Linked DNA regions of Homo sapiens: region 1 is linked to region 2. The links come from fine-mapping of genetic effects on gene expression. A gene starts in region 2. The other region holds a variant in brackets. All regions are shown on one strand. Distances are between the middles of the regions.

Region 1 (4,413 bases), 60 kb before region 2:
CACAGCTGTATTTTTCTTTCAATATTATTTATAGCTTTCCATTTTAAATGATGAAAGTGGGAACACAACCTCATTACTTAATAGATTTTTATCTCTCTGAACCCCCTAAAATGGCTCATTTTAGGGGATGCCAATAAGAACCTGGTATAAGATATTCTCTGTGGAAATAGTGGTAGAAATGACAAAGAAAACACAAGATGGATTATGTTGATTTATTCAAAAAGAACTCTCAACTAGTAATTATCTCATGATTCAGGTTGGAAATCTTCCAAACTACCTTTCTGCTTATATTTCATAATTTCTGCTGCCACTTCCAAGCACAGTAAAAGAAGAGCAGAAAAAGCAGATTATTTGAAACCTCAAGAGTCTGCTTTTCATTAGTATTCTCAATTTTTATGAACTTAGTTTCTCTTATAAGACATATTTTATCCTACCACACAACCATTTTATATGAGAGCCAAAGAACTATTGCATCATCTTATCAGTAGTGATTTTTCAATCACTGGTACAATTTTTTCTGCCTTCTTGGAGTTTGAATTTGCCAATTTGCTCCAGAAAAATAAGTTGGTTCACTTAATGGATGGGTTTTCTTTGGGGATGACATCAGTTTAAACAGCAATATTTATTCCAGTAATTCTAGTTTTTTAAAAAAGTGTATCTTCTTTTGAGTAGAGAACTGATTGTAAACATACTTTTAACATAACTTTTACAGATTAGAAATAATTATTAGATGTTTTAGGCAATGTTGGAAAACTAATGATGTAATTATTCAATGTGCATTTAATCCTTTTCCAATAATATATTTTTATGTCATTTTGATCTATAGATTCCTTTAAATAGGATTTGAATAATTTAGGTGTTAGTCATTTTAAAACACTAATATTTCATTTTTCTACATAAGATATCACAAAAGTATTCTCATCAGAGTCTCCAAATAAAGTCTTATGACCAATTTCCTTACAAGTAGAAGTAGGGGAAATAATTGAGGTGAGCATGAGAAAATTATTCAAACGTTAACAATTTGAATGATGATGACAGGAAATTTTGAGAGCATTCACTTTAAAGATGGTTCTGAGAGGCACTGGAATTAGAATAGAATTAGCTGCTTACCACTATTTGAAATATTTAGTTCTCTTTTTACTTCACAGAAACGTTTTCTTTTTTTTTCCACATAGGTCGCTAACATTGACAGTGACTTACTAAATCTGCTTTGTAACTTGCATTAGTCAGCCAGAGCACATGTAACAGATTTTCATTTCTAGAGAAGATATTGGAATATAAAGGTAAACTTGTAAAATATTTCTTTATATATTGTACATTTAATTACTTGCCATGATTGTCCAACTTAAAATTATTATCAACGTATTTCTTTCTTTTTTTTTTTTTTCTTGAGACAGAGACTCGCTCTGTTGCCAGGCTGGAATGCAGTGGCGCAATCTCGGCTCACTGCAACCTCCACCTCCTGGGTTCAAGTGATTCTCCTGCCTCAGCCTCCCGAGTAGCTGGGATCACAGGCGCATGCCACCACGTCAGGCTACTTTTAGTATTTTTTTTTTTTTTTTTGAGTAGAGACGAGGTTTCACCATGTTGGCCAGGAAGGTCTCGATCTCTTGACCTTGTGATCTGCCTGCCTCGGCCTCCCAAAGTGCTGGGATTACAGGCATGAGCCACTTCGCCTTTGAATTGCTAGTTAATAATTTCTATGACTAATTTGGGGATTATCATTCATGTATAAAAACTGAAGCAAAGCTATGTTTAATATTGGGTTTCACAGAGAGTGGAACAGTGGTTACTAGGGATGGGGTAAGGGCAGGGGGAATGGGATGATATAGGTCAAAGTACAAAGTTGCATTATGTAGGTTAAGTAAATCTAGAGAACTAATGTACAACAGGAGGTCTATAGTTAATAATGTATTCACACTGGTACTTTGCTAAGAGAGTAGATTTTAGGTACTCTTACCATGAAATAAAGGAGGAAAGGAAGGAAGAAGGAAGGAAGGAAGGAAGGAAGGAAGGAAGGAAGGAAGGAAGGAAATGTAGGAGGGGAGAGAAAGAAAAAAGTAACTATATGAGATACTTGGTTTGTTAATTTGCTTGATTGTAGTAAACACTTCACTATGCATATGTATATTAAGGTAAGTATATCAAAACATCATGTTGTATATTTTAAATATATATACAGTAAAAGGTAAAATAAAATTAGGTTTCATTGTATTCTTATAAAGACAAATATGATTGGATATTTGATAATTTTGAAGCTTTTCTACTTTGATCAAATTGCCAAATCACAGAATTGCTCATTTAAGTCATATTCTTATTTTATAGCTATGCTATTTTATATCTTGCATGGATGAATCATTTATTTTTTCCAAACCCTTTTGCATTTTGAACTGTGTAGATATAACCATTGCAAATTTCAAAATAATTGTATCTGAGTATCACTATTATGAGTAAACCAACCATTATAAAAATAACATAAAATAAAGCAACATTCTCTTTAACTAGAACTCTGTATAACAAGAGGAAAA[C/A]TTTTATTTTTTAGTTATAGATGGAAAATTTATTCTTAAAATCACAAGATGTTACTGTACACATTAAATACATATGGATGATTATAAACAAAGTGGTAATCTTTTCATGGCTTAATCAACTGAAGGCATCCTATCATCAATGGAAGTTTTTTTTTTTTTGTTACTAACAGAAAGAGAGGTCAATGGAAAAATATCCTTAAAATCCTATTTCACTTTCTATAAGTTTTTATCGACTTGAAAAATATAGAAGTTAGTTTTTGTCACTTGATCATCTGAAATAAACATTCACTTTTCATCCTAAATAACATGCCTCAAAAAAAGCAATGCTTTATTTATTGAGTTTTAAAGATTGAAGGATTAAATACCTGTGTAATTGGATTCTGTTTTCAGCTCTTGCTATTTTTACCTATCCCGAAAATCTTAACCTTCATGCAGTTTCTCAGTTTTCTTGTCTCAAATGTAATTTACTTGAGGGTTGCACAGTGTGTTCTAAACTGTAGTGATTATTTCTAGTAGCTATATGGAAGAACTGTGAAAGGACAGACATGTAACAAGATACCAGCTCAATATGTTTGGCACCAAGTTCAGATAGGAAAACAGAATATACATATATCTATAGATAGAGAGACAGAAAGATGAAGGAAAAGGAACTTTATCTTTGTATAAGCCTTAAACTAACCATTTTTTTCTCATAATGGTGATAAAAGAGAAAAATAGAATAAAAACACATTTAAATGCAGTTTGTAGATTAACGCCTATGATAATCTGTGTCTTATATGTAAGGTTGTCTGTCACTATGGATCAAAATGTGCCCAATATTTTAACAATAATTTATTGCATATATACTCTGTGCTATGCATCCTTTTAGGAACTAAGTTCCCACCCTCCTGGGGAGTTTAAACTCTATTGAAAAAGACAGATGATTAAAAAGCAACCACAGTACAGTATGATAAATAAGTGCTGCAACAGACGAAGCACCGAGTGTGCGAGAAGCATATATCAGGGGCATCTATCTTATCATTTTTTTCCTTAAAGGAAATAAATCTTTATAAGCTTGCTGCTGAGATGGCCAGCAAAGGTGAGTGGGCAAGGAAGTTGGGTGGGGTAAGACTGGAGATGAGAAAAGATTTTCATCAGATGAAACAGCTTGTGGGAATCTCCCTGAGGTGTGAGAGAGCATGACGTTTTTTAGAAATTAGAAAAAGCTCAAATATTTGGACTATAGAATGCCAGGGGTGAGTTCAGAGAGAAGGGGTTGAAGATTTAGTAAGACTAGATGATTCAGGGATTTGAAACTGTATGAAGTTTGTAGTTTATTCCAAAAGTGATGGAAAACCAATGAAGGGTTTTAAGCAGAAAGAGGCATGACCAGATTTCTTTCGTAGAAAGATCATTCTGACAGTTATGTGGAGAATGAATTGGAGGAGTCCATCCTGGATACAGGTAGCTCAGTTAGGAAGACATTGCAGTTATTCAGGTGATGGATGATGAAGGTGGAACCAGGTGAGAGAGATGCTTAAGAGAAAGAATGGACTCGACTTGCACAATGACTCGACATAGGTGAGGGTGGGGGAACAGGTGACAGGAAAAGTGAGTCAAACATTACATGCAGTTTCTGGCTTAGATTTTGAGTTCATGGAATTGTTCATATTGTGGTGCTTACTGATTATCCAAGTGGGTAGAATTCAGATATAGTCACTCTCAGTAGTGAAAGCGGAGCTGAAGACACAGATTTAGGAGTCTTCAGCACCTAGGGGGTCAATAAAGCCATGAGAGAGGATGAGAATGCCCAGGAAGACGGTGGAGGACTAGAGAAGCAGAGGGCCAAGGTAGCAACTCTGAGTAATAGCAACAAATAAGGAATAGACTGCAGGGAAGAGGCCTG
Region 2 (4,413 bases):
TCATTGAGAATCACAAGTGATGCTGGTGTAGGTCTTCTTTTCCTGATCTGTGAACGACAAAAGCCCAGCTAATATCAGTGAGTATTAGACACTGCTCCAGGTTACTCTGCAGCTTGCAAAGCTGTCTCACCCTCATCTTTTCCCCACATGCAAAAGCAAATTTCTGGAGGACACATGGAAGGTGCTCACTAATTTTATTTTGAAATAATAGAAAGCCACAGAATTGAACTGTCTGATAGAAGTATCACCCTCTTTGACCAAAAAGCTACATTTCCACGGAAAAGAAATAATTATATACAACTGAATGATACAACAGAAAATTAATTTACAATGAAGGTACAGGGTTGACCTGATAATGTTAGTGGCTTGCTTGGAGCCTCATAACATTGGTGGTGCTTTCAAGATTCATTACCCTTATTTTTAAACAGGATAAGGAAGAGCTTGGAAACCTATTTCTAGCAGGTACCAGAGTTAAATCAACAGCATAAGCTTTGAATTTCAATTAATTTTGTTAACTTTTTTATTTTCTAGTATAATATTTAGAACAAATAAACAAATGAAGAATAAATATGGATCTTATGAGAATATGCAACTTATTACAAACTCTAAAGTTTTTTTTTTTCATTTTAAGAGTTACAGGAGCATAGTATTGTCAGAATCCCTTGAATATAATATCCTTTATTTGTTTATTATATTCATTTATGGGTAAATACCCAAAGTAAGTGTCAGTAGGATAGATAATAAAATTTATCAATGACATCCTGTCCAAGATAGAAGCAACATCCCATTCAGCATGGATAGACACATGTTCAAGGATACATTTATCTGGCCTGAGTCTAGGTGCATCTACCTCAGATTTCAAAACATCCTGAAACACTATGAGTCACGGATTAAATAATTATTTTTAAGACTTTATATCAAATACTTGGAAAAGGATTCAAGAATAATTTAAGTTTTAAGAAATGAATGGATTAGGTTGATGTCCTCATAAATTTCTTTGCTTTTGCCTCCTCACAGTTGCAGTTCTAAGAGATGCCATTGCATCAAGAATCTAAGTAAATCTGAATATGAAAGGTGATACAGATGTAAACCAATATTAGACATGGACAAAGAATCTAGGAAATGTTAAAACACTGTTTGTAATGTCTGAACAAAACGATTTTAAAACTGTACAAAAAGCTACAAATCCTAGCTGTAATATATTATATAAACTTATAATCATTGTTTTGTGTCCACAATAATAAAACATATGAAAATAAAGTATTAGGCCTATAGTCTCAAACTATTGCAGGATTTAATGATTTTATTGCTAAATCAATCATTTTATTTTATAAAAAATGAAATAAAATGTTGCTCATTTTGATAATTTTTAAAAGTTGCTCTAAATGTTGAAACTGTTATTTTAATGAGCAAAAATGAACAGATTTATGAATCCATATCTGAATTGCTTACAGAGCCATTTTCCCCTCAGAGGTGCTAATTTTGTATCAAATGAAGTGTTACATTTTAGACAATAGTTCTCCCAATGCAATTTAAATACAAGTATGTGTAAAAACCAACTTATTTCTTGTTTACATTATCTTGAAAGTCAGAGTTAGCAAAATCAAAAGGTAAAGAACCTTTCAATTAATAACCAGAATGCATGTTCATATTACCTTATGTACAGGAATGGTTCTCCATGCAATTTCACATACCTGCTCTGCTGCTTCAGGTGCAATCTGACTCTGGAATACAGGCACGGCAAACTGTATCTTTTTGGGACTGTTGGGCTCCATGGTAATGATGATAATTAGTCAGAGATGTGAAGAGCTCAGAAAGACTAACCCTAAGTGGTGTCCGGGATGTGTTTCCTCAGACACACTCCACTAAGCCACACAGAGTGCTTCGTAATAAATAGCTGTAATTCCAGATCGAGCAAGTGAAGATGCCGAGGTTTGAGTAACCCCCTTCTTCAACATCCACGGTGATGCCTGGCTTGCCTGTTCCCCCACCAATCCCTTGGATCCTCTCAGCACAATACAGAAAGGAACAATACGCTAATTGTGTGCCTCTTCACTAATACACATGCCAAGCATTCACTCAGCAGCTAATTGAAAATGCAATGCTAGCCTTGAAGGACCCACTGCCCTGGGATTTGAAAGAAAGGCTCTATCCACTGTACATTACTAACCGGCTGCTCAAAAGTGCAATGTAAGCTCCCTCTGAGTATTGCAGGGATGGGCCATTCATTATTGATGAACATCAAGCAGGAAGTTTTTAGAGTTGGGGGCAGGGTTTAGGTATGGAATCATTTCTCTCAGCAACTTATAAGTCAGATACCTTTGCTATTTCACATTCAGCCACGAAACAGTTGAATGGCCATGGAGGGTAAGCCACAACCAATAATATCAGCTATGTTTATGCTATAAGATCTGGTTAGTTTAAACTCATCCTAGGAGGCAGAGCATCTGTGGTGTAGTGAGGGCAGCATTACTGCAGGGCTGAGCAGATCTTAGTTCGAGTTCCATCTTCATAATTAACAAGCTCTGTGGCCTCCAGAAAATTACTGGCTACGTCTAGGCCTCCACACTTCCATCAGAAAAATGAGGGGATTGGACTCAATGACCTTTAAAGTCCCATCCTGTTCCAACATTCTAAAATTGCAGTTCACAGTTTTCATTAGAGTGGAAAGTATTGTGCTGCTAAATTTAGCAAACAGCTTGGAAGTCACTGCTGCTTCAATGACCTCTATTTTATTTCCTGGTGGAGCCAGTTACATTCTCTGACTTGGAAGAATATGACTGGAAAACATTAGTAGAAACCTAATGGTAGTCAACATTATGGCTTGTTGTCAACAGTAGAAATGTATGTAAAGATAAGGACTTGAAAAAAGCATGAAGTGGGTAATGTTCAGAGGGTTGATATTGGCTAGTGGTCAGGGAACAGTGGGACACTAGCCTGATTGCCACATTAGTTAATGTTAAAGGGGAGGTAGTAACATAGCCAGATGGCCTTCATGCATTCGAATACTTTTATGAAGGAAGTGTGAAAATGAAACTGCTTGAGATCTCTGCTTTCTTGAGAGGCATTATGTGATGAATACTAGATTTGTAAATATGTTTTTGGATGTACTTAATATATTTAGACATCGACTATGATTCCAGGTATTTACAATTGAAGTTTTTATTTTTTAAATTTTGATTCTGTACTAGGAATCCATCTTAATGATTTAAATAGGCAACATTCTGTTGAAGGAATATAGAAAGGAATATGCATTATTGAAGTAGTTTTCTATATTCACTAGGGGAAAAAGCAAAGATGTGGATGTGAAAGCACTTTTAGTGGAGAACAGTGCTGACTAGCAAGAAATCTTGTGATGAGTTTATCCGTGTAGTGTCGAAGGGAAATTTATAAATTACATTTTATGTAACAGTTTACAAAAGTCTCCAGAAATAAAATCTAAATTGATATCATTAATGAAGTTATTTCTTTGAATATATCTTCAAATTATATAAAAGGAAAGCAAGACAAGACAGTATTTTTAGTGAGGAGTTAATACAAAACTTCACATAATGTAATAATTAAGAACATGCACTTGGCAACCTTGAGTTCAAGCTCTAGCTCTGCTACTTACCAAGTTTATCAGTTTGGGCAGTAGGAGAACTTTCTTCTTGTGAGGTTTAGATTACTCAATTCCTGAAAAGAGCTCATTACAAGGCCAGCACGGAATCACTCAATAAAAGATAGCTATTATTTTTCTTTCAGCCAGATTTTTCAAAAGGCTTCAACATACACATTTTCAACCAGAATCACTAAGAATATCTATCTACTTGGAATAATTTGATTCCACTTAGAATAATAGGTGATAAAGTGAAATTTCATATATGTGTTTGGTATAAATACCAATAAAATGGTTCTCATTAACTAATTGCCCTATTTTGAATAGGTTGATCAGAGACAATATTGTAAATGGGCTATCTAGACCCTTTAAGCTTCTTGTTTTTTATGAGGCCAACTCCTGTGTGTCCATTAAGATTCAGTTAAGTATCATTGCTTCTAGGAAGCCTTTGTAGATTTACTGTTCTCCACATTGGGTTTAAACTCACCTCTCTGTATTCTTAAAGAATGAAGCATAACTCTATTTATCATAATAACTACCTACATGTCTTTTGAATGTTTAGTATTTTGCAACTTTATTTATTCACATAGCAAATATTTGTTGAGTAGATACTATAGTCTACTCCACACCAGGCCTTTTGCTATGGCACTAGAGGAGAGATTGTGTTAAAAGGTATTTGAAGTCCTTTTAAAGCTAAATTCTTACTTGAAGAACTACTTAAAATGCAACTTAAATGTAAAATAATCTAAAAAATGTTAATATAGAGTTTGCATGGGGGGTATAATTTTCCTAAATATTAAGTGCACATTTTTTTA

Alleles and levels. Positions count from the first base shown, and alleles are read on the strand shown. Sizes are in standard deviations (SD) of each study's normalised expression.
For the expression in thyroid of the gene that starts at base 2,033 in region 2, C is the low allele of the variant in region 1 and A is the other (moderate effect, 0.61 SD a copy in GTEx).

The links.
Region 1: its variant is fine-mapped to the expression of PPP1R1C in thyroid (GTEx, PIP 0.91).

The regions. Positions count from the first base shown.
Region 1 is chr2:182,043,715-182,048,127 of GRCh38, reverse strand. All of the region lies in intron 2 of PPP1R1C (protein phosphatase 1 regulatory inhibitor subunit 1C), which reads right to left. Among named protein-coding and RNA genes, the nearest start is that of PPP1R1C, 60 kb to the right of the region's middle. The variant C/A (reference allele first, on the strand shown) is at 2,529.
Region 2 is chr2:181,983,473-181,987,885 of GRCh38, reverse strand. It overlaps PPP1R1C (protein phosphatase 1 regulatory inhibitor subunit 1C), which reads right to left and starts at 2,033. Exons shown (of 5, transcript NM_001080545.3): 1 at 1,695-2,033; 2 at 1-47. The coding sequence starts at 1,775.